Regions from separate parts of the Homo sapiens genome. Here all the other regions are reported to be linked to region 3. Evidence: microRNA targets listed by miRTarBase, many of them from high-throughput screens and not tested one by one. Region 3 holds a microRNA gene; each other region holds the end of a gene's coding sequence. Distances are from middle to middle.

Evidence for each region. Region 3 holds the annotated microRNA hsa-miR-324-3p (CCCACUGCCCCAGGUGCUGCUGG, at 2,615-2,637, opposite strand). A microRNA usually pairs through its seed, bases 2 to 8, with sites in the 3' UTR of a target mRNA and lowers its output. Matches are read on the target gene's strand: a 7mer-m8 pairs with bases 2 to 8, a 7mer-A1 pairs with bases 2 to 7 and ends in A, and an 8mer does both.
Region 1: the mRNA of CIZ1 is a reported target of hsa-miR-324-3p. The part of its 3' UTR that is shown has no 7-base or 8-base seed match.
Region 2: miRTarBase lists KLHDC2 as a target of hsa-miR-324-3p. Seed matches in the 3' UTR shown: 7mer-m8 at 1,120-1,126.
Region 4: the mRNA of HIC1 is a reported target of hsa-miR-324-3p. The part of its 3' UTR that is shown has no 7-base or 8-base seed match.
Region 5: the mRNA of SETDB1 is a reported target of hsa-miR-324-3p. The part of its 3' UTR that is shown has no 7-base or 8-base seed match.

The regions. Positions count from the first base shown.
Region 1 is chr9:128,162,456-128,166,455 of GRCh38, forward strand. It overlaps CIZ1 (CDKN1A interacting zinc finger protein 1), which reads right to left. Exons shown (of 17, transcript NM_001131016.2): 17 at 3,610-3,951. The coding sequence ends at 3,742. It overlaps BBLN (bublin coiled coil protein), which reads left to right. Exons shown (of 2, transcript NM_024112.4): 2 at 988-1,469. The coding sequence ends at 1,160. Among named protein-coding and RNA genes, the nearest start is that of BBLN, 4.2 kb to the left of the region's middle.
Region 2 is chr14:49,782,734-49,786,733 of GRCh38, reverse strand. KLHDC2 (kelch domain containing 2) reads right to left here. Exons shown (of 13, transcript NM_014315.3): 13 at 349-3,904. The coding sequence ends at 3,781. NEMF (nuclear export mediator factor) reads left to right here. Exons shown (of 33, transcript NM_004713.6): 29 at 1-16; 30 at 1,414-1,514; 31 at 1,599-1,642; 32 at 1,730-1,809; 33 at 2,021-4,000. The coding sequence ends at 2,098. Among named protein-coding and RNA genes, the nearest start is that of KLHDC2, 17 kb to the right of the region's middle.
Region 3 is chr17:7,220,694-7,224,693 of GRCh38, forward strand. It overlaps MIR324 (microRNA 324), which reads right to left and starts at 2,686; the gene lies at 2,604-2,686. It overlaps ACADVL (acyl-CoA dehydrogenase very long chain), which reads left to right. Exons shown (of 20, transcript NM_000018.4): 5 at 73-137; 6 at 231-365; 7 at 845-989; 8 at 1,259-1,388; 9 at 1,484-1,609; 10 at 1,974-2,172; 11 at 2,440-2,544; 12 at 2,951-3,037; 13 at 3,120-3,182; 14 at 3,275-3,376; 15 at 3,453-3,550; 16 at 3,628-3,700; 17 at 3,787-3,859; 18 at 3,949-4,000. RefSeq lists an enhancer at 1-144.
Region 4 is chr17:2,058,305-2,062,304 of GRCh38, reverse strand. HIC1 (HIC ZBTB transcriptional repressor 1) reads right to left here. Exons shown (of 2, transcript NM_006497.4): 2 at 1-4,000. The coding sequence ends at 3,470. It overlaps SMG6 (SMG6 nonsense mediated mRNA decay factor), which reads left to right. Exons shown (of 19, transcript NM_017575.5): 19 at 683-2,462. The coding sequence ends at 813. Among named protein-coding and RNA genes, the nearest start is that of HIC1, 5.2 kb to the right of the region's middle. RefSeq lists silencers at 2,909-2,978, 3,309-3,498, 3,519-3,608, 3,629-3,948 and an enhancer at 3,641-4,000.
Region 5 is chr1:150,963,742-150,967,741 of GRCh38, forward strand. SETDB1 (SET domain bifurcated histone lysine methyltransferase 1) reads left to right here. Exons shown (of 22, transcript NM_001366418.1): 21 at 254-342; 22 at 506-996. The coding sequence ends at 623. It overlaps CERS2 (ceramide synthase 2), which reads right to left. Exons shown (of 11, transcript NM_022075.5): 6 at 3,923-3,973; 7 at 3,651-3,743; 8 at 3,333-3,461; 9 at 3,015-3,121; 10 at 2,735-2,888; 11 at 1,445-2,547. The coding sequence ends at 2,407. Among named protein-coding and RNA genes, the nearest start is that of CERS2, 9.1 kb to the right of the region's middle. RefSeq lists enhancers at 1,040-1,184, 1,677-1,821 and cis regulatory regions at 1,112, 1,748.

The DNA.
Region 1 (4,000 bases), not on the chromosome of region 3:
GGGAGGGAGTGATGGTTTCTAGTGGAGACCAGGGAAGGCTTCTTGGAGGAGGCATTTTGAGCTGGTCCTTGAAGGGCTGTTGTGGTTGAGGCATTCTAGGTTGCAGGGATAGTTGAGCAATGGCGGAGAGGCTGGAAAGTCAGAGGCTTCATTCATTCACTCACTCAGTCATTCAACAAATGCTTATTGCAAAACTGTGAGGGCACCAGGGAGCCAGCAGCGAACACAGGACCGTTCATCTTTCATGGGGAAACATAACAGCACTCAGATAAGCACAGCAGTCAATCCTGGAGAGAAGGTCGTGGAGGGCTGAGGAGGGCTAGGGGCTCAGCATAGAGGCCTGATCCAGTCTGGGGCATTGGGTGGGCTCCCGGTGGTGACATCCATACTGAGACTTGAAGGATGAGTGGGACTCATCCAGGAGGAGAGAAGGGAAGGAAGATGGGAGGACCCAGCACCTTCCAGGCAGAGACAGCAGCATGTTCAAAGGGCCTGAGGTAGGTAAAGGCAGGTGTGAGAGAGGAAAGGAAGAGGCAGGGAGGCAGGGCTAGCTAGGAGGCAGGGGCTGGAGACTCCGCTGGGTGTTTTATCCTGAGGGAGCCACAGAAGGGCTGGCGAACAGGGCCCATCTGGGGACAGAGGCCTTGAATGCCCAACTCAGGAATGTGGGCTCTGGCCACTAAGCAGCTGCTGCAGGAAGTGCAGAGACTTGGCATCTGGCAGGACTTCCCATGTAGGACACTGGCTCGCCACCCTATGACCACCCTAACCCTAGAAAAAAGGATGCAGTACTAAAGTGTCATTCATTCAAAGCCACTCCTCTTTTGGTATTCCACCCATTTTCCAGACGGTGACACTGAGGCTCAGGAAGCAGTAGGGACTTGCACAAAGCCCTTTGGGAAGCAGGCTGGGAAACAGTGGAGGGAGGGTGTCCATTAGCCCCAAGGAGACACAGGATCTGGGCTCTGTCTTTCGCCTTCCTCCCAGAATACGCTGCCATCAACTCCATGCTGGACCAGATCAACTCCTGTCTGGACCACCTGGAGGAGAAGAATGACCACCTCCACGCCCGCCTCCAGGAGCTGCTGGAGTCCAACCGGCAGACACGCCTGGAGTTCCAGCAGCAGCTCGGGGAGGCCCCCAGTGATGCCAGCCCCTAGGCTCCAAGAGCCCCCAACCGGGACCCAACCCTGCCTCCCTGGGCTAGGCTCTGGCCTGGGCACTCACCCCCTGGCTTAGACACCTTCTCAAGGGCTGGCCTTCAGGGACCCCTGGTGGGTCTGCCTGCCTGGGCCACCCTTCCTGCCTGGGCCTCCCCTTGGCCTACCTGGGCCAGCCCCCACCACCTGGCATGCCCTCCTGGGGCCAAGAGTGGGCCTGCAACCCACCCACTTGCCTGCCCACCCAACTCCTGGGCGCTCCCCACTCTGCCCAGGCCTTGAGTGTCCACATTAAATGGGTCTCCCACACCGCTGTGCCTCTCTCCTCTGTATCCCAGGACGAGAACCCCAGCAGCTGCTGGAGGCGAACAGGACTGTCTAGGTGTTCAGGTGTTGATCCTATACTGGCGGCTCAGAGGCCAGGTGGTAGGGCTGGGGTTCTTGGTCACCTGTACTTCTGGACACAGAAGGTGCAGGTGAGGGCAGGGCTTCCTCCCTACCTGATACATTCCTGGCCAGCAGCTGCTTCCTAGCCCAGAAGCCCAGTTGAGACTGTTGGACATGCTGTGTGACCTTGTGTGATGCTCTCAGCCTCTCTGGGTACTAGGGCCTTTCACCAAGACAGCCAACATGCTAAGACATGCTATGCAGCCTCAGCATTGCCCTCCCACTCTTGGCCTGTCTCCCCAGTAATAGGGTTGGTCTGGTCGTTTATCTCTATGGGTCTTTCTAATGAGGAAATAGCAGAAGTAAAGGGCCAACTCAGCCCAGGCCCCATCCACCCATGATTCATCTTAGGGTCGCCTGACCAGGAGGGTGGGGTGCCTGCTAGTGAACCAAGAAGAGAACCAGAGGGCCTGAGCAGCAAGGACCCCACTCCTGCACTCCAAAGGGTGCAGCTGGAGAGACAGGCCAGCATGGGTCGGAGAGCTCAGGCCCGGGTCAAATCCCAGCCACTTACCAACTGCGTGGTCTTCAGCAAGTCACTTGACCTTGCTAGGCCTCCAGCCAAAGGAACTTCCCCAGCTCTGATACGTTATTAAGAGGGAAACTTGGCCACGCACAGTGGCTCACACCTATAATCCCAGCAGTTTGGAATGCCACAGTGGGCGGATTGCTCGAGCCCAGGAATTTGAGACCAGCCTGGGGAACATGGCGAAACACCATCTCTACCAAGAACATACAAAAAATTACCCAGGCGTGATGGCGCACGCCTGTGGTCCCAGCTACTCGGGAAGTTGAGGTGGGAGGATGGCTTAAGCCTGGGAGGCAGAGGTTGCAGTGAGCCAAGATTGGCACCACTGTACTCCAGTTTGAGCAACACAGCCAGACCCCGCCTCAAAAAAATAAAAATTAGCCATGTGCGGTGGCTCACGCCTGTAATCTCAGCACTTTGGGAGGCCAAGGCAGGCAGATCATTTAAGGTCAGGAGTTCAAGACCAGCCTCGCCAACATGGCGAAACCCTGTCTATACTAAAAATACAAAAAGTTGGGCGTGGTGGTGTGCACCTGTAATCCCAGCTCCTCAGGAGGCTGAGGTAGGAGAATCACTTGAACCTGGGAGGTGGAGGTTTCAGTGAGCTGAGATCGGGTCATTGCACTCCATCCTGAGAGACAGCGAGACTCCATCTCAAAAAATAAATAAAAATAAAAATTAAAATTTTTTTTTTGAGATGGAGTCACCTAGGCTGGAGTGCAATGGCACGATCTCGGCTCACTGCAACCTCTGCCTCCCAGGTTGAAGCGATTCTCCTGCCTCACTGTCTCAGCCTCCCGAGTAGCTGGGATTACAGGTGCGCGCCACCATGCCTGGCTAATTGTATTTTTAGTAGAGACGGGATTTCTCCATGTTAGCCAAGCTGATCTCAAACTCCTGACCTCAGGTGACCCGCCCACCTCAGCCTCCCAAAGTACTGGGATTATAGGCATGAGCCACCCCGCCTGGCTCAAAAATTAAAATTTTTTTTTTTGAGATGGAGTCTCACTCTTTTGCCCAAGCTGGAGTGCACAGGCACGATCTCGGCTCACTGCAACCTCCACCTCCCGGGTTCAAGCAATTCTCCCTGCCTCAGCCTCCCGAGTAGCTGGGATTACAGGCGCCCGCCACAACACCCAGCTAATTTTTGTATTTTTTAGTGGAGACGGTTTTGCCATGTTGGCCAGGCTGGTTTTGAACTCCTGACCTCAGGTGATCCACCCGTCTCAGCCTCCCAAAGTGCTGGGATTACAGGTGTGAGCCACCACGCCCCGCCTAAAAATTTTTTTAAAAGAGGGATACCCAAGTTCAGACAGGTGAAGTGCCTCATGATCCAGAGTCCCTGGTTCCCAGGGAGCCTGTCTGGCCTTCTGTTTCTGCCACCACATGGCCCAGAGAGGCTGGGTGCTGGCTGAGAGTTGGCTGGGGTGCCCCCCTTCCCCTATCCACCCAGACAGAAGTACTGGTGGGAACTGCACAGCCAAACTACCTTGTTTTATTGGATTTTGAGTAAAAACATGAACCATGTCAAAGTTTCCAGGCAGACTCCTAAAAAGCATTAGCAGATCTGGACCCAGGCAGGCCAGGGACAGGGAGGTCCCTCTATCAGGTTTTGAGGCGGGTTGAGCGCCGAGGTAGTGGGGGCTGGGAGGGTCGAGCCGTCACCTTGCTGGGTGTTTTGTCCTGGGTGTTGGGCTGGGAGGGTGGGCGGCCGCTGGAGGTGAACAGGGCTGTCAAAGCGTTCCGGGCGTTGATTGCGCACCGGCGGCTCACAGGTCGGGTGGTGGGGCTGGGGTTCTTGGCCGCCTTGTATTTCTGGATACAGAAGGTGCAGGTAAGGTCAGGGTCTCCTCCCTACATGGTA
Region 2 (4,000 bases), not on the chromosome of region 3:
TCAACAGGGAAATGAGGTATGATTTTATGTTGGGGTTCCTACTACAACACTGTGATTACAATTCAGTTCCCAGAATGTTTGAAACACAACTTATTAAAACTTAGAAACCTAAGACAAGACTGCAGGCTACGAAGTCAAACTTTCGGGGTCTTAATCCCAACTCTGCTATATGTAACTGTACAAACTTGGAAACATTCTTTGTGCCTCAGTTTCCTCATCTGAAGAATGGGGATAATGTCCCTACCCAGGAGAGGGTTGTTTTGATAACTAATGTATGTAAAGGGCATTTAGAAAAGTTTATGGCACATAGCAAACACTCAAATATTAATTATACTTCAGCACCAAGCATTCTGTCCTAAATCTAAGTTTATTCATATTGTAAAATAAATGGGGGCAATCTCACAGGCAGCACAGCAAATAAGAACTCTGGGATTTCTCCTTAATAATGGGTAAGAGAGAAGGCTGTTCTAGCCCAGGGTTTCTCAACTTTGGCACTATTAACATTAGGGGTTGGTTAATTCTTTGTTGTGGGGTCTGTCCCATTCATTATAAAATGTTTAGCGACATCCTCGGCCTTTACCCACTAGATCCCAGTAGCAGCCCCTACCTATTCCTTCTCACCCCTCATCGTGTCAACGAAAACTATCTCTAGACATTGCCCATTGTCTTCTGAGGGCAGAATCTCCCCAGGACGAGAAATAGTGGTATAGCCAAGGTATTAGTCCCATTTCCATGTGATAGGACTTAAATCTATTTGTGGTTATTATTGCATCATTTTAATCCACAGCAGGTTTCTGCAACTCAGGTAATATCCAATAGTTTTTTTCCTTTTTTTTTTTTTTTTGAGACAGGGTCTCTGTCACCCAGGCTGGTGTCACCCAGTGCAGTGACAGGATCATGGCTCTCCACAACGTCTACCTCCTGGGCTCAGGTGATCCTCCCCCCCTCAGTCTTCCGAGTAGCTGGGACTACAGGCACCCACTATACCCAGCTAACTTTTATATTTTTTGTAGAGATGGTGTTTCTCCATGTTGCTTAGGCTGGTCTTGAACTCCTGGGCTCAAGCGATCCACCCGCCTCAGCCTGAGCCTTCCAGAGTCCTAGGATTATAGGCGTGAACCACTGCTCCTGGGCCTTCTTTCTCTTAAATGTAACTGTAGGTAGGATTTTGAAAATTATTGTTCTCATTACTTATTATGCTAGGCAAAAATTAAGTAGTAAAGAATATATTTAAACATTGGTCTTCAACTCTTTGGAACTATGAAGCAGAGTTTAAGTACCACTGTTCCAGCTTAGATGGTATGTATATCAGGAAAAGATAAAAAATATGTTGAGATACTAATTCAAGTGTTTTAGCATTTTTTGTAAAGGGCGGTATAAATTGCCTTTGTAACTGTTATTTTCCCTTTTTAGGAAAACCTATTTGATTCTTTGACAGGCCAGCCACATCCTGAAGATGTACTACTGTTTGCCATTCCAATATGTGCCCCTTACACCACCATGACAAACTACAAGTAAGTTACCATTAGTTGACAGAATGGCTTTTGTGAATTGTTTTGTAACGTCTATTTAGTAACACATGTAATTCCTTTTTAAAGATATAAAGTGAAACTTACTCCTGGAGTGCAGAAAAAGGGAAAAGGTATTTAAATTTGTTTTTTTGAATTATGATTTTAAACAGTTCAGTGACTTAACAGTAGATTATTCTTACTCTTTTTTGTATTTACAGCTGCAAAAACAGCCTTGAATAGTTTCATGCATTCCAAAGAAGCAACAGCAAGAGAAAAAGACTTATTCCGCAGCGTAAAGGTAAAGTTCTCCTTCAGAAAAGGAATGTGGAGACTGACAGTACAATTTAAAATGTTAGCAGTTTTTTGTTATTTTAGTAGAAAATGCTGTCTTATTAGAAGCAGTAAAACCATCTCAGCTAAAAGTTTGGAAATGTTTTTCGTTTTTGTCATAAAAGAAACATGATTGACCATACAGGATGTGAAGATATTCAGCAATTTTCTTTTTTTAGGACACAGATTTATCAAGAAACATTCCTGGCAAAGTGAAAGTGTCTGCACCCAATCTTCTGAACGTAAAAAGGAAATAGCTGAAATGAAATTCTAAAATATTTGAGAAGAGCCAATTTTATAGCCTTTTGGAAGTTCAAAGATGAAAGCACCATGTATCAGGATTTCCGCATTATAAAAATGAACTAAACATTGCCTTGCTATATTCACCAAAAGGACTTACTTCTTGTTTTTTCCCAGTTTTATATAGAGGAAACACTGTCTATGATAGGATTTCCAAAAGTATTTGTGGACAGTTAAATGCTAATTAATATACATCTGTAGTTATTCTACATTTTCTTGAAATTTGGGAGGTTAATACCAAGTATTCATTTCATGATGTAAAGAAACTGAACAGTGAAGTGGCTTGATTGCTTAAACTATTGACTTGGTAAGTCTACTGTATATAACATCTAATATATATATTACAGGCCAAATGAACTAAACATTGCCTTGCTATATTCACCAAAAGGACTTAATTCTTGTTTTTTTCCCAGTTTTATATAGAGGAAACACTATGATAGGATTTCCTAAAGTATTTGTGGACAGTTAAATGCTAATTATATACATCTGTAGTTATTCTACATTTTCTTGAAATTTGGGAGGTTAATACCAAGTATTCATTTCATGATGTAAAGAAACTGAACAGTGAAGTGGCTTGATTGCTTAAACTATTGACTTGGTAAGTCTACTGTATATAACATCTAATATATATATATTATAGGCCAGCTACAAGGGGTTTAAATATTTAGGATTGTGTCTTGAAAACTAAGTATTGGAGTGGATTTTCTTCTGCTTTCATTGATACTTGTCAGAAAAAAATATTAGACCAAAATGTAAAATATAAGTAATAATTCTCATGACTCAGCTTAATCATTTCTATTCATTTGTAGACCTTCAGGTTTGATCTTAATTTTTTCCTTGTAATCTGATTCAGTTCTGTACCATTTTAATTTCCACCTTTAGTAATTAATTACCAATATAGCACGTTAGAGTATCTTAACCTATAATACCAGAAGCGCATTTTAGGCTTACCACTAAAGACTCTAACCCACTTTTCCTCTGTCTCTTAACAGAATGGAAAATGATGTCATCATTATTTCCATTCCTTCATGAGCTATAAAACCTATTAATTAAAAAAAAACTTTTTAATTGACTGGACAGCACCTGCCTGTATTCAGCATGACCACTTGCTCCAGCCCCTACACTGAAGCATTAAGGTCAAAGTACTGAACAGTTGTTGGTCCCTCCACACTTTGTTTTTCCAGCTTCGTCATAATGTGAATATTAATGTTTAAAAAAAAAAACCTTTATTATATTGTATTTACAACACTAGGTTACATAACTATAGACTACTCTTGCCATTAAAAAAAAAAAAATCTATAATGTTTTCAAAAAATGACTTCAGCATTTTGATGATGGTAAGACTATAATGTTTCTACAGATACATATCCTGAAGTTACTGAAAAGAAAATGTAGCAACCATTCTTCAGGGTAAAAAGCCCAACCATTACTTTACTTTAATAGAGGACAGCTACTGGTGTTAAATACATTTATTGTAAACTTTAGACACAAAAATAGGTTCTCTAGGCCATTCACATGCACATTAAAACCAACAGGTGCAAACTACAACAATGCATATAATTATACAAATGATGCCACTCTGTGATGTTTACAGGATTGCTGTCCATGCAAGGTGATCATAGGCATTATTTATGAAGCCTTAAGATCCAGAAGTGTTGTTACTACCAAACCTCTGATTAACACTGTGAAGTAAGTGTTTTGGAAGGCAGTTCCATGAGTTGGCTAACATTTCTTTAAAGCAAATGACTGCTTCTAAGCTTAGCCTGAAAGTGGACAAGGAAAGAGAAAAGTAATTTCACTTTACTGTTTGGAAGTACATTCACTTGAAAAACTACATAAAACATCCCTCTTTCTTTCTT
Region 3 (4,000 bases):
CAGAGCTGGGTGGGGCCAGGGTGGTTTCCCCTGCCAGCCTGGCCTGACCAGCCTGTCCCCCACCCTCTGCAGTGCTCAACGAAGAGCAGACACAGTTTCTTAAAGAGCTGGTGGAGCCTGTGTCCCGTTTCTTCGAGGTAAGGAATGACTCGGGGCTTGGTCCCTGGTGAGGTGTTTGGAGATGTTAAGCTCAAAAGGAGCCTGGATGTGGGATCCTGTGCCTTCCCCAGGAAGTGAACGATCCCGCCAAGAATGACGCTCTGGAGATGGTGGAGGAGACCACTTGGCAGGGCCTCAAGGAGCTGGGGGCCTTTGGTCTGCAAGTGCCCAGTGAGCTGGGTGGTGTGGGCCTTTGCAACACCCAGGTGAGGGCGCCCTATCGCCACATCCCAGTATGCCATACCCCAGCTTGGCAGACTCAGCTCTTTTGCCATAGACCTAGAGACTAGGGCTAAGGTCTCTTCTAAGCACCTGCCCTGGGTGCCTGTGGGATGGATGTTAACTGTCCAAACATAACACAATTTACATGCAGTCCCCTAGGCCTGAGCCATGGGCCTCACCCTGGTTCCCAAGTCCTTACAAATCTCTAAGTTGGGGATTGCCTAACAATAGACTGACTAGTAGCAAGTCACCCTCCTACCTAGACCTAAGACAGACCAGCATTCTCTGCTGTGCCCTTTGCACACCCCACTTCTTTTCTACACACTGGGGATGGCCCAGGTCAGGCACTGCCCTAGGTCAGGAACTGCCCTAGGTCAGGAACTGCCCTGTTGCCCACACTCTCCTGTTAAGGTCAGGTCCCCCTGCAGCCAGTGACAACCCCAGATTCCTGCTTCCCCTCCAGTACGCCCGTTTGGTGGAGATCGTGGGCATGCATGACCTTGGCGTGGGCATTACCCTGGGGGCCCATCAGAGCATCGGTTTCAAAGGCATCCTGCTCTTTGGCACAAAGGCCCAGAAAGAAAAATACCTCCCCAAGCTGGCATCTGGTGAGGCAACCCTAGGAGAGCCAGGGATTGGGGGGCACACTGGGCTTGGCACAGATTAGGCCAGTTGGCACTTAGATTATCAGATGGCTGAGCATTTCAGTTGGGGGAAGGTTTTGGGGAGGCATCACAGTGTGCTGGTTGGGACATGCAAAAGAACTGGATACTCCCAGGTGTTAAGGGGGAACTGCCTGCTGGAGGGATGGGGAAGTGGGCCGAGGGGACTTTGAAGCTCATCAGAACTTGGGGTAAAGTAGCTCTCTCCCCAACAGGGGAGACTGTGGCCGCTTTCTGTCTAACCGAGCCCTCAAGCGGGTCAGATGCAGCCTCCATCCGAACCTCTGCTGTGCCCAGCCCCTGTGGAAAATACTATACCCTCAATGGAAGCAAGCTTTGGATCAGGCAACCTGCCTCCCATTTCTCCCCTTCTCCTCCGCCCAATTCCAGGCCCCACTGCTCCCCGTCCTCCACGCCCTGAATATCCCATTCTTCCACAGTAATGGGGGCCTAGCAGACATCTTCACGGTCTTTGCCAAGACACCAGTTACAGATCCAGCCACAGGAGCCGTGAAGGAGAAGATCACAGCTTTTGTGGTGGAGAGGGGCTTCGGGGGCATTACCCAGTGAGTGAATTTGGGTTGGGGGAGCTTAGGACTGAGGGGCAGGACTGGGCTCCTGGGCAGATGGCTGTTGCAAGTCACCCTGGGGACGTGTGCAAAAGCCAAAGCAGGTGGACTGAATGTGGCCTTTGGGACTAATATGTATGCAACTGAGCTAAAGTTTTGGCTCCAGCAACCAAGTCCAACACAAAATAGGACATAGCCAGGCCTCCTTAGCCCTCAGGGCCTGAGGGGAAGTGGTGGCTGTAGCCTCTAATAGTCTAGTGGTCGTCATTCCTCCCTGGTGCATAAGGAGCGAAGGAGCAGTTTTTCCCCCAGTGACAACCTGTTGAACACACCTCTGCTTTCCCACACTGCCCTGACACAGTGGGCCCCCTGAGAAGAAGATGGGCATCAAGGCTTCAAACACAGCAGAGGTGTTCTTTGATGGAGTACGGGTGCCATCGGAGAACGTGCTGGGTGAGGTTGGGAGTGGCTTCAAGGTTGCCATGCACATCCTCAACAATGGAAGGTTTGGCATGGCTGCGGCCCTGGCAGGTACCATGAGAGGCATCATTGCTAAGGCGGTGAGTACCCTGCCCGAGTCCCTAGGTAACCCAAACAGAAGTCTCACTGTCCCCCTTGCCATGTGTCCCTGATCACTTGCAGGCACTCCCTACACTAGAAACTCCTCCCCTACCAGCAGCCCGACTTGCTAGCTTAGGTCTCCATCCAGCGTAGACTGAACTCTGGTTGTATGCAAAACCCATCCCTCTGGCGCAAGCCCAGCCCCTCTCCTAGGGAGACTGCAGAACCACACTGAACCACAGCGGGATGTGTGGACCCTCTTCCAGGTAGATCATGCCACTAATCGTACCCAGTTTGGGGAGAAAATTCACAACTTTGGGCTGATCCAGGAGAAGCTGGCACGGATGGTTATGCTGCAGTATGTAACTGAGGTGAGGGCCTCCCAAGCCCCTCTCCCTGGAGCCCTGGGGCTTTCTTCCCAGTCGGGTCAGACTACAACCCCCAGCAGCACCTGGGGCAGTGGGTCTCCAGCTTTACACCAATGCCCTAGGGGATGCGGGGAGGCATAGTCAGCTCAGCTTCTGCGAAGAGAGACAGCAATGATGTTCTGCTCAGGTGCCTGCCAGCAGTACCAGAAGTTAATTCTACCTCATCCCTTACATCCACCCCTTTTAAGAAAACAAATACCTGGAAGCACCTGATGAACTGACCCAGAACAAGTATCTGCCTGACCTGACAAGCTAGGTCAGCCCTTATCTTGGAGATCTGGGTGATGAGGCCAAGTCTGACAAAGCCCTTTGCAATTTTCCTTCCCATGTCCCAACTATGCAACCTCAGTCCATGGCTTACATGGTGAGTGCTAACATGGACCAGGGAGCCACGGACTTCCAGATAGAGGCCGCCATCAGCAAAATCTTTGGCTCGGTGAGGTCCCAGGCATGCTGGGAGGGAGTCCAGTTTGGGTGCTCAGCTCCCAAAACCAGTCTCATCTGTTCTTTGTCCCTAGGAGGCAGCCTGGAAGGTGACAGATGAATGCATCCAAATCATGGGGGGTATGGGCTTCATGAAGGTACAGGACGGTCTTCTGCAGAGCCTCGGCTGGGCCAGGGGTGGGTAGGCACATCTCAGCACGGGCATATAATTTGTGTGGCCCTGTGCTAGGAACCTGGAGTAGAGCGTGTGCTCCGAGATCTTCGCATCTTCCGGATCTTTGAGGGGACAAATGACATTCTTCGGCTGTTTGTGGCTCTGCAGGGCTGTATGGTAAGACAGAGAATTGGGTGGGGGTAGAGGTGGGGAGGACAGTGAGTCCTGACTGCTGGACCCTCTTCCCCCATAGGACAAAGGAAAGGAGCTCTCTGGGCTTGGCAGTGCTCTAAAGAATCCCTTTGGGAATGCTGGCCTCCTGCTAGGAGAGGCAGGCAAACAGCTGAGGCGGTAGGCTTAGGGCCAGAGCCAGGGGAGGGCAGGGTGGTGTATGGCAACTAACCAGTCATTCTCCCTCTTCCTCTCAGGCGGGCAGGGCTGGGCAGCGGCCTGAGTCTCAGCGGACTTGTCCACCCGGAGTTGAGTCGGAGTGGCGAGCTGGTAAGTGGCCAGGGGTCCAGGAGAGCCTGCATCAGGGACTGCAGCCGATGGCCCCTCTGAGCCCCGCACTGTCCCCATCTCTTAAGGCAGTACGGGCTCTGGAGCAGTTTGCCACTGTGGTGGAGGCCAAGCTGATAAAACACAAGAAGGGGATTGTCAGTAAGTGAGCTCTACACCATTCCGCCCCTCCCTTTCCTCTCCTTGAGACTAATGCCCCCACCCCCACCCCCACCCCACCTACCGGACAGATGAACAGTTTCTGCTGCAGCGGCTGGCAGACGGGGCCATCGACCTCTATGC
Region 4 (4,000 bases), 5.2 Mb from region 3:
GATCATCATCTTAACTCTACTCTTCCTTTTTACTCTTCTGTCCTCTTAGAGACTTTCGCCTGTATACATGGATTACTGTTACTTAGCAGGGGCGACCGGTTGGCCAAAGCCTTGGTGTGCCCTTGGCACAATTCTGCCAAGACCCTTACCCTCTCCTCTCCTCAGGGCTCCCTTAACCCCTCTCCCCACATCTGGAAAACCCTGGATACATTTTCTGTTCCATCTTTAGTTTTCTGCCTCTGGATGCGTAAAGCTTCAACCTGCTGGCTTTTAGAGGGAGAGGACTTGTTAAAAAAAAAAAAGTGGGGTGTGGGGAGAGCGGTGTTGTGATCTGGGGGCCAGCCATGTGGTAAAAAGGAGTAGAGGTCAAGGGGCTGCTTCTATTCCCTCAGTTTAGGGTCCTGGGAGGCTGACGGGTTTGGGCAGCTTTTGGGAACTAGGCAGAAGAGAGTCCTGTATGGGAGGCCGGAGTCAAGGCAGAAGCCCAGTGCAGCCCTCTCTAGGCCAGCAGGGGAGGGTCCCCGGGGCTGAGAGCCCGGACGGAGGAAAGGACTGGTAGAAGAGCCAAGACACGGCTAGCGTGGCACCCCCTCCCCAGGACCACATTCTCCAGGGTGAGAAGAGCAGCCAGCCCTCTGCCTCCTGTCCTCAGTGACAGCCTTCTGCTCTCTCATGCCCACAGAGGAGCCAATCCGGCTACTGCGGGAGGTGGTGCTGTTGACGGATGACCGGAACCTGCGTGTGAAGGCGCTCACAAGGAATGTTCCTGTACGGGACATCCCAGCCTTCCTCACGTGGGCCCAGGTGGGCTGAGGGAGCCACACTGGGGCCCCCCCCCCGTGGAACCGTTCCTGAAAGGCCACCAGGCGCCCAGTGTAGCACGGAAGATGCCCACGTGCCTGAGCCACCAATCCACCCAGACAATAAACCATCCTCTTCCAACCCACGCCACGGCCATGCTGTGGGGGACCTGCTCCTCACAGAGCCCCTCCCAAGGATCGGGCGGAAGCTGCTGGGACCCTCCTGGGCTGCCAGGATTTAGCAGGGAGGTGGCTGGCTACAGCAACAGCAGCTGGGCAAGCCAGATAGGCCGCCCATGCTCTCAGCCTTTCTCCCTCCCCCGTCTCATTCCAAGGCTGAGGGAGGGCCTTCTCGCCTGGGGACGCAGCCACTTTCTCCAGTGGAGACAGGGCAGGGGTTCTGAGTTTCCGTCAGATGCAGTGAAATCACAGTTCCCTTTCATCTTCAGAACCTCTGTCGTGAATGTGTTCAAGAGGCTTTGGTTAAGTCAGGAAGAAGTGCCCAGGGTGTGTGTCCCCAGTCTCCCTGAGGCCTGGACTCGCCCATGAACCCAAGTCGGCTTCTAGACAGCATGTCCCTAACAGCAGCCCTGGGCCCCCACCTCTTCTACCATCCACCCCAGACTTACCACACACCCTTCCTGCTGCTCCTCTTCCTGCCCTTATCAACCTGGGTCCCTCACACTTCGCCAGTTGCGTCCCCGTGGACAGTCATGAGTCTAGAGGAAAGGGGCATCTGGTCTCAGGCCCGTGCTCTCGGGTGGCCTCCACCTGCTCCCTCTCTCCTCACTGGCCTTTCTTTCCGTCTAGCTTCCTCTTCAGGAAATGTCCTGACTCCCCTCAGCTCCCCCTTCACCCCTCCTTGCCCGCCTACCCTCCCTCCAGAATAGCCCCTCACCCTTCTTCCCCTTCTAGTTGATCCTTTTCACCTCCCTGATCCCCTTCATTTCTTCACCGCGGTTCCTCGTCATAGGGGTTCTCACTCTGAACTTTCCCTCTCTACTACCCATGGCAGGAACCTAGTACAGGTCTCCCACCCAGGGCCTTCCACCCTCGGCTCCTGTGCTGGGAGAAACTTCCAGGCGTGGACAGCCCAGCCTGAGGCATTCCAGTGCTGGGGCACCGTCGCCTAACCTGGTTTCTAGCTTTGCCCTCACTCCCCGGAAAAACTGACACTGACACAGGGGCCCTTTCCTTGCCCCTTTAGCTGGTACCTCAGTGGGGAGGCTTCCTTACCAAGAATGAGTTCCTGAAACCCAGGGCCAGAGACAAGGACAACTTAGGGGAAGACGGGGTTTTCGGTGGAGCCAGGGGCAAATCTTAATGGGACCAGTGGGGGATACCCCAGAGCCCATGGCCTGACTGCACAGCCTGCCTGGAGGATGGGTGCGCAGCTCTGCCCTCCCTGAGGCCCAGGACTATGCCAGAAGCGATGGGGTACCGTGTAGGGGAGCCAAGGCCAGTAGTTTGGGGGTAGGAGTCCCCTAGAGTCTCAGAAGACTGGGCTCTTTGGAGTACAGGGTCCCCGGCCTCTCCTTTAAGATTCTCTCCCCAGCTGGAAGGCCGATGACTGGGTGGTCGGGAGGGAGACCCAGCTCTCCTTTCTGTCCCGTTTGCAGCACTGGTTTTGTTTCCTTAATAAATTTTTAGTTATGAAACATACCTGACCTCTTGCTGATCTGTTTCTGGGACTGGGGAGGGAGGCAGGTCCAAGCCTCTGCACCTGTGTGAGGGTGGCCCTTTCTGGCTCCTCCACCCAGCGGGCGCAGCCCATCCAGGTCCTTGTGCAGGGGCAGAAGAGAGCAGCGGGGTCGGGGTCCTTGGTTACTGCTTTATTGCTGTTTGGTTCGAGTATAGAAAATGGAAGCGGCTCTGGAAGAGCCTGTGTACAAGGTAGGAAATATACAAACGAAGAGGAGGGAGCTAAAGAGACCGCGTTCCAGCCCAGCCCAGCCTGGGCTCGGGATGGGGGGCCGCCGGGGCGCATGCAATAAATATGGTCCGGGGCCGCAGGGAAGGGAAGGGAGGGCACCGCGGGAGTGGGAGACCTGGTGGTAGGCTCTTCGCCTTCCGACTCCAGAACTCCCCGCCCTTGGTGACTGAGGAAGGAAGGGTTGGCCCTGGGGCTAGTGCCACTTGTGCAAAATGAGGAACTTCACATTATCAGTCCCGGGGTGGGTGGGAGCGGGGGTGCGGGGGGCCCTCCGGCCGGCTCAGTCCCCTCCCCACTCCCCAACTCTGCCCGACGCTCCGACCCCAGCGGGGAGATTCACAGTGAGAATGGGTGTGGTCGCAAGGGCCGGAGGTAGGGCTAGGAGTGCCCCGACAGTGACACCCCTCCCCCTCTAAGAGCAGCGCGGAGCCGGGGGAGGGGGCCGACGAACCACAGGAAGAGGCGGGAGGGGCCTGGGGTCTCCTTTGGTCAAAGCTGATATCAAAAATATAAATTTCCCTTACCCCATCCCACCCCCGTCCCGGGGTTCTCCCCCGACCCCCGAGCTAAGGCACGAAGCAGTGAGGCCAGGTGAGGCCGCCGAGAGGTGGAGCCGCCACTGTGGCGACGCTGCGGTTGTCCCGGGCACAGTGGGCCCTGCGCGCCGCCCCCGCCGCTCCCTGGGGTGCGGGCCAGGGCCGCGCAGCAGCGACAGAGCGGGCTGGCGAGGGGCGCTCTAGGTGGGAGAGAAACGGTCGATGGTCCGGCCGTCGGGCCCGGCCGCCAGGTGAGCGCCCTGGCTCAGCACCTCGGCCGCCTTGTCGGGGCTGAGGCCCAGCTCGGCCGTGAACTTGGCCAGCGGGTAGAGGCTCTCCAGCGCCACCTTGGGGTCGTGCAGGAAGTGCGTGGTCTGCGCCAGCAGCTCGGCCGCGGCCGCCTTGTCCTGCTGCTTCAGGCTCAGCTGCTCGGCCGTGAGGCGAGCCACAGCAAAGACGCCCTCGGGGAAGTCGAGCTTGCCCTTGCCGTCGGGGCCGGGGACGCCGGGGAGCCCCCCCAAGCCCGCCAGCGCCCCGGCCGCGCCGGCCGCGCCCCCCACGGCGTGCATCTTCATGTGGCTGATGAGGTTGCGTTGCTGTGCGAACTTGCCGCCGCACACCTGGCACTCGTAGGGCTTCTCGCCCGAGTGGATGCGCATGTGCTCCGTGAGGCGGTACTGGCGCGTGAACCGCATGCCGCACGCGTCGCACGCGAAGGGCTTGAGGCCCAG
Region 5 (4,000 bases), not on the chromosome of region 3:
GTGAGACCCCTCTCCCCACCTCTAGATGCTGGATTATCCCATGGTCCTCAGATTTCTTTTAACATACTCTATAAGCCCTTTTCTTGTTATAAACTCTTGATCTCAAAGGATCTTAAAGAGGTAGCTTTCTTTCAAAGCATCTATTATAATGGGGAGGGTCAGATGGCATCATTTTTCTTCCAACTCTCACTCTCCCTGCAAAGCCAGGTTCAGTTTCCCTGGTTCTTATTTGATCCTGTCCTTAAACCTACAGCACAGTTGCAGCCCCAACCTGTTTGTCCAGAATGTCTTCGTGGATACCCATGATCTTCGCTTCCCCTGGGTGGCCTTCTTTGCCAGCAAGTAAGGAGTCAGGAAAGGGGATGACTGGGGAGGGGCAAGGACCACTGAAGTTCTAAGGGCCCCTCCTCCATTCATGATCCAACTCCACCTACATATTCAGTAACCCCAAGTGCCTGGGTTATCTGCTGTCTTTGCCACACACCATCCTTTTCTTCCTCTTCAGAAGAATCCGGGCTGGGACAGAACTTACTTGGGACTACAACTACGAGGTGGGCAGTGTGGAAGGCAAGGAGCTACTCTGTTGCTGTGGGGCCATTGAATGCAGAGGACGTCTTCTTTAGAGGACAGCCTTCTTCCCAACCCTTCTTGAACTGTCGTTTCCTCAGGAACTGGGTCTTCCTGATTGTTGAACCCTGACCCGAAGTCTCTGGGCTAGCTACTCCCCCCAGCTCCTAGTTGATAGAAATGGGGGTTCTGGACCAGATGATCCCTTCCAATGTGGTGCTAGCAGGCAGGATCCCTTCTCCACCTCCAAAGGCCCTAAAGGGTGGGGAGAGATCACCACTCTAACCTCGGCCTGACATCCCTCCCATCCCATATTTGTCCAAGTGTTCCTGCTTCTAACAGACTTTGTTCTTAGAATGGAGCCTGTGTATCTACTATCTCCAGTTTGTATTATTTCTTGAAAGTCTTTTAACAATATGATAAAACTAAGATTGTGGTTTTGTTTCTCTCTCTCAGCCCGATACTCCCAATTCTGGATCTTTCAGTGAGGTATTATCCCCATCCTCCCCTGTGGGCTGCTGTCATTCATCTTCTACCTTGTCTACCTTTGCTTCTTGCATGTGAATTTTTTTAGATGGAGTTCTCGCTCTGTCACCCAGGCTGGAGTGCAATGGTGCAATCTCGACTCACTGCAGCCTCCGCCTCCCGGGTTCAGGTGATTCTCCTGCCTCAGCCTCCTAAGTAGCTGAGATTACAGTCGCCCGCCACCACACCCAGCTAGATGTATTTTTAGTAGAGATGGGGTTTCGCCATGTTGGCCAGGCTGGTCTCAAACTCCTGACCTCTAGTGATCCACCCTCCTTGGCCCCTCAAAGTGCTCAAATTACATGCATGTGAAATTTAAAAAAGAAAATATTACATAACTGCAAGGAAGGCATAAGAAAGACTCTCTTCGTTTATTTAGTTGATCCCCCTTCTCAATTCCTAATAGTCTGACACTTATTGCCATGTTTTATTTAATATTTTTTATTTAATCTTTTAATTTTTAAAAAAAACCCATTAACAGTACATTTTGGTCTAAAATGGTCCCTCTGCTGAAATGCTAGGTGCTAGCCGTAATTCTGGCTTTAAAACCAAAACCCCAAATATTTAATAAATAAAAATTAGAATTAGTTGCCATTCTACTCCAAACCAGCTAGCCTAGCTGAAGAGAAGAGGGAAGGGGGAAGAGGCCAGAGAAAGGAGGAGGCAGTCAGATCTTAGACCTGTCGCTACAGGGACAGCTGAAAGAAGTAGCACTAAGAAAGATCATCCGAGCAGTCCCCAGTACAGCCCCCACTTTTTGGCAGAGGTAGGGTAAGGGTTATGTGCACCCTCCTCCTACCCTCAATTCATTTGTGTCATAGAGGGAGAAAGTTAAAAGCTCAGCTTTGGTTTCTGGCCCAAGTTAGGGAGCTTAGAAAGGTTAGCCTTGGTCCAGCTTTGGCAGAATGAGGCCCACAGATGGGACAATAAGGCACAACCCTGGCTCTGGAGGTCAGGGAGTCAAAGGCAAACAGCTGGGGCCAAATTCTCAGAATAAGGAATGTGAATTGTAACCCCTACCCACAGAGAGCTGAGGGAGGGCCTCAAAAGCAGTAGAAAGGATGACTTGGCGGGTAGGGAGGAAAATACGACCGTCCCCCTCTAACAGAATATAACCAACGTCCCCCTACCTGGGGATAGGCTGGTTAGAATTTGGTTTAAAGGCAACTGGGTGACAAGCAAGGAGGGAGGATGCAGAGAACTCTCCTCTCACTTTCTCCTTTTTCCCCAGAGCTTAAAGTGACCCTATAGCGCAGGGAGCGGGGTAGTTCCTTGGCTTTATGCATTAATCTGGGAGGCAGCTGGAGTAATGGTTCAGTCATTCTTACGATGGTTGTTATTGAGGATGGGGTGGCCATTGGCTAGGGGCCGGCTCTTTGCTCCTCCCCCAGCTGCAGCCTCCTCCCCCTCTGAGCTCTCTGTTTCTTCCCGGTCACTGCGTTCATCTTCTACCAGCTGTGGAAAAGGGACAAGAAGGGTTATTACATGAGATCCTCAAACCCCTAAGTACTGCTTCTCTCTGAGGGCTTGTTCCTGTTATACCCAGGGCTCCACACTAGTTTTTTAGAGAGTTACTGGCAAGATGGGAGTTCAGGAAGTTGTAGAGAGTAGTAAGGCCTACACAATGGGAACAGGGCTTCACCTTTCCAGTTATGAACTTGTGGGCCATGCGCAAAATGAGGTAGGCCCAGAAGATATGCAGCAGCTGTAGAACTCCCATCATGGAATTGAAGAAGTAATAGCCAAAGAAGGCAGGATAGAGCTCCAGTGGGTACACCAGGGTGCAATGCAGGATCCTGAGGATTCAAGGAGAGAGAGAACGTGGACAAGAGCAGGTCAGACACCGGGGAGATACAGGAGGGGAAGAAAGGCAAGGCTCCTGATTTCTTCAGAACAGGAGTGTAGCCTAGCTGCCTACTCACCAGAAGGGCAGGATGACCAGTCGGGTGATGATAAAAACAATGGCGAAGACGATGAAGATGTTGTTGCAGGTGTTCTTCCATCCCGCGTAGTTAAACATCTTGGCTGACTGCATAGAGAGCCCCCATCCATCATCATGGGCTCCTGACTCCCTCGAGTACATTCATATGTACACTCCAGTTAGGAGCACTGACTCTGTGCCCTCCTCCTTGGTCCCAGGAATGTCATCCTCCAAATTCCCACCCCGCACCTCCCTCCCAAAGAAAACCAAAGGGACAGAAGAACCTGCACCAGGGTCTCTAGATTTGAGGAAGCCTGACCTCCAGCAGGTAATCGGAAGAGTCATGCAGAGCCATGATTAGAGTCCCAGCTCGGATGTAATTGGCAAACCAGGAAAAGCTGATGAGAATGATGGTGGCCACATGGTGGATGATCTGTTCCTTGAAATCCTGCAGAGATGATGCAGGCCCCAGGGCCTTTTTTTATTCCCCAGCTCTCACTATGCCTTCTTACCCCTTGCCTTTGGTTCCCCATATACCAACAGCTCCATTCAGAGTACCCAGAAGTCAAAGGAGAGGGTGTTCATCCCAGGGCCTCATTTTGGCTCTGAGGCTTAATTGCACAACCCCTTCACCCACCTTTCGCTTGACATCAGAGGCAATGCTGAAGAGCAGGGACCAGTAGAAGGAAAGTTCAATCATGTAGTACCAATACTGGGAAGGGATAGTGCTCTGGGAGAGGAGAGAGAGGTAAGAGCAACCAGCCGCAAGGGTGTCCCCACTCCACAAACCCCCTAGCCCCTGAGGTTCTTCATTCCATCACTCTAATCCCTCTGCCATGGATTCCACAAACCGTCTCTTCACTAGGGTGTGTCTTAGTCCACCCCCACATGAGGAAGCAGAACTCATACCTGTATGGGATATCCCTCCCAAACTTTCTTCATGTCATAGAACCAGGGTTTCTGCAGAGAGATGGTGAGAAGTTAAAA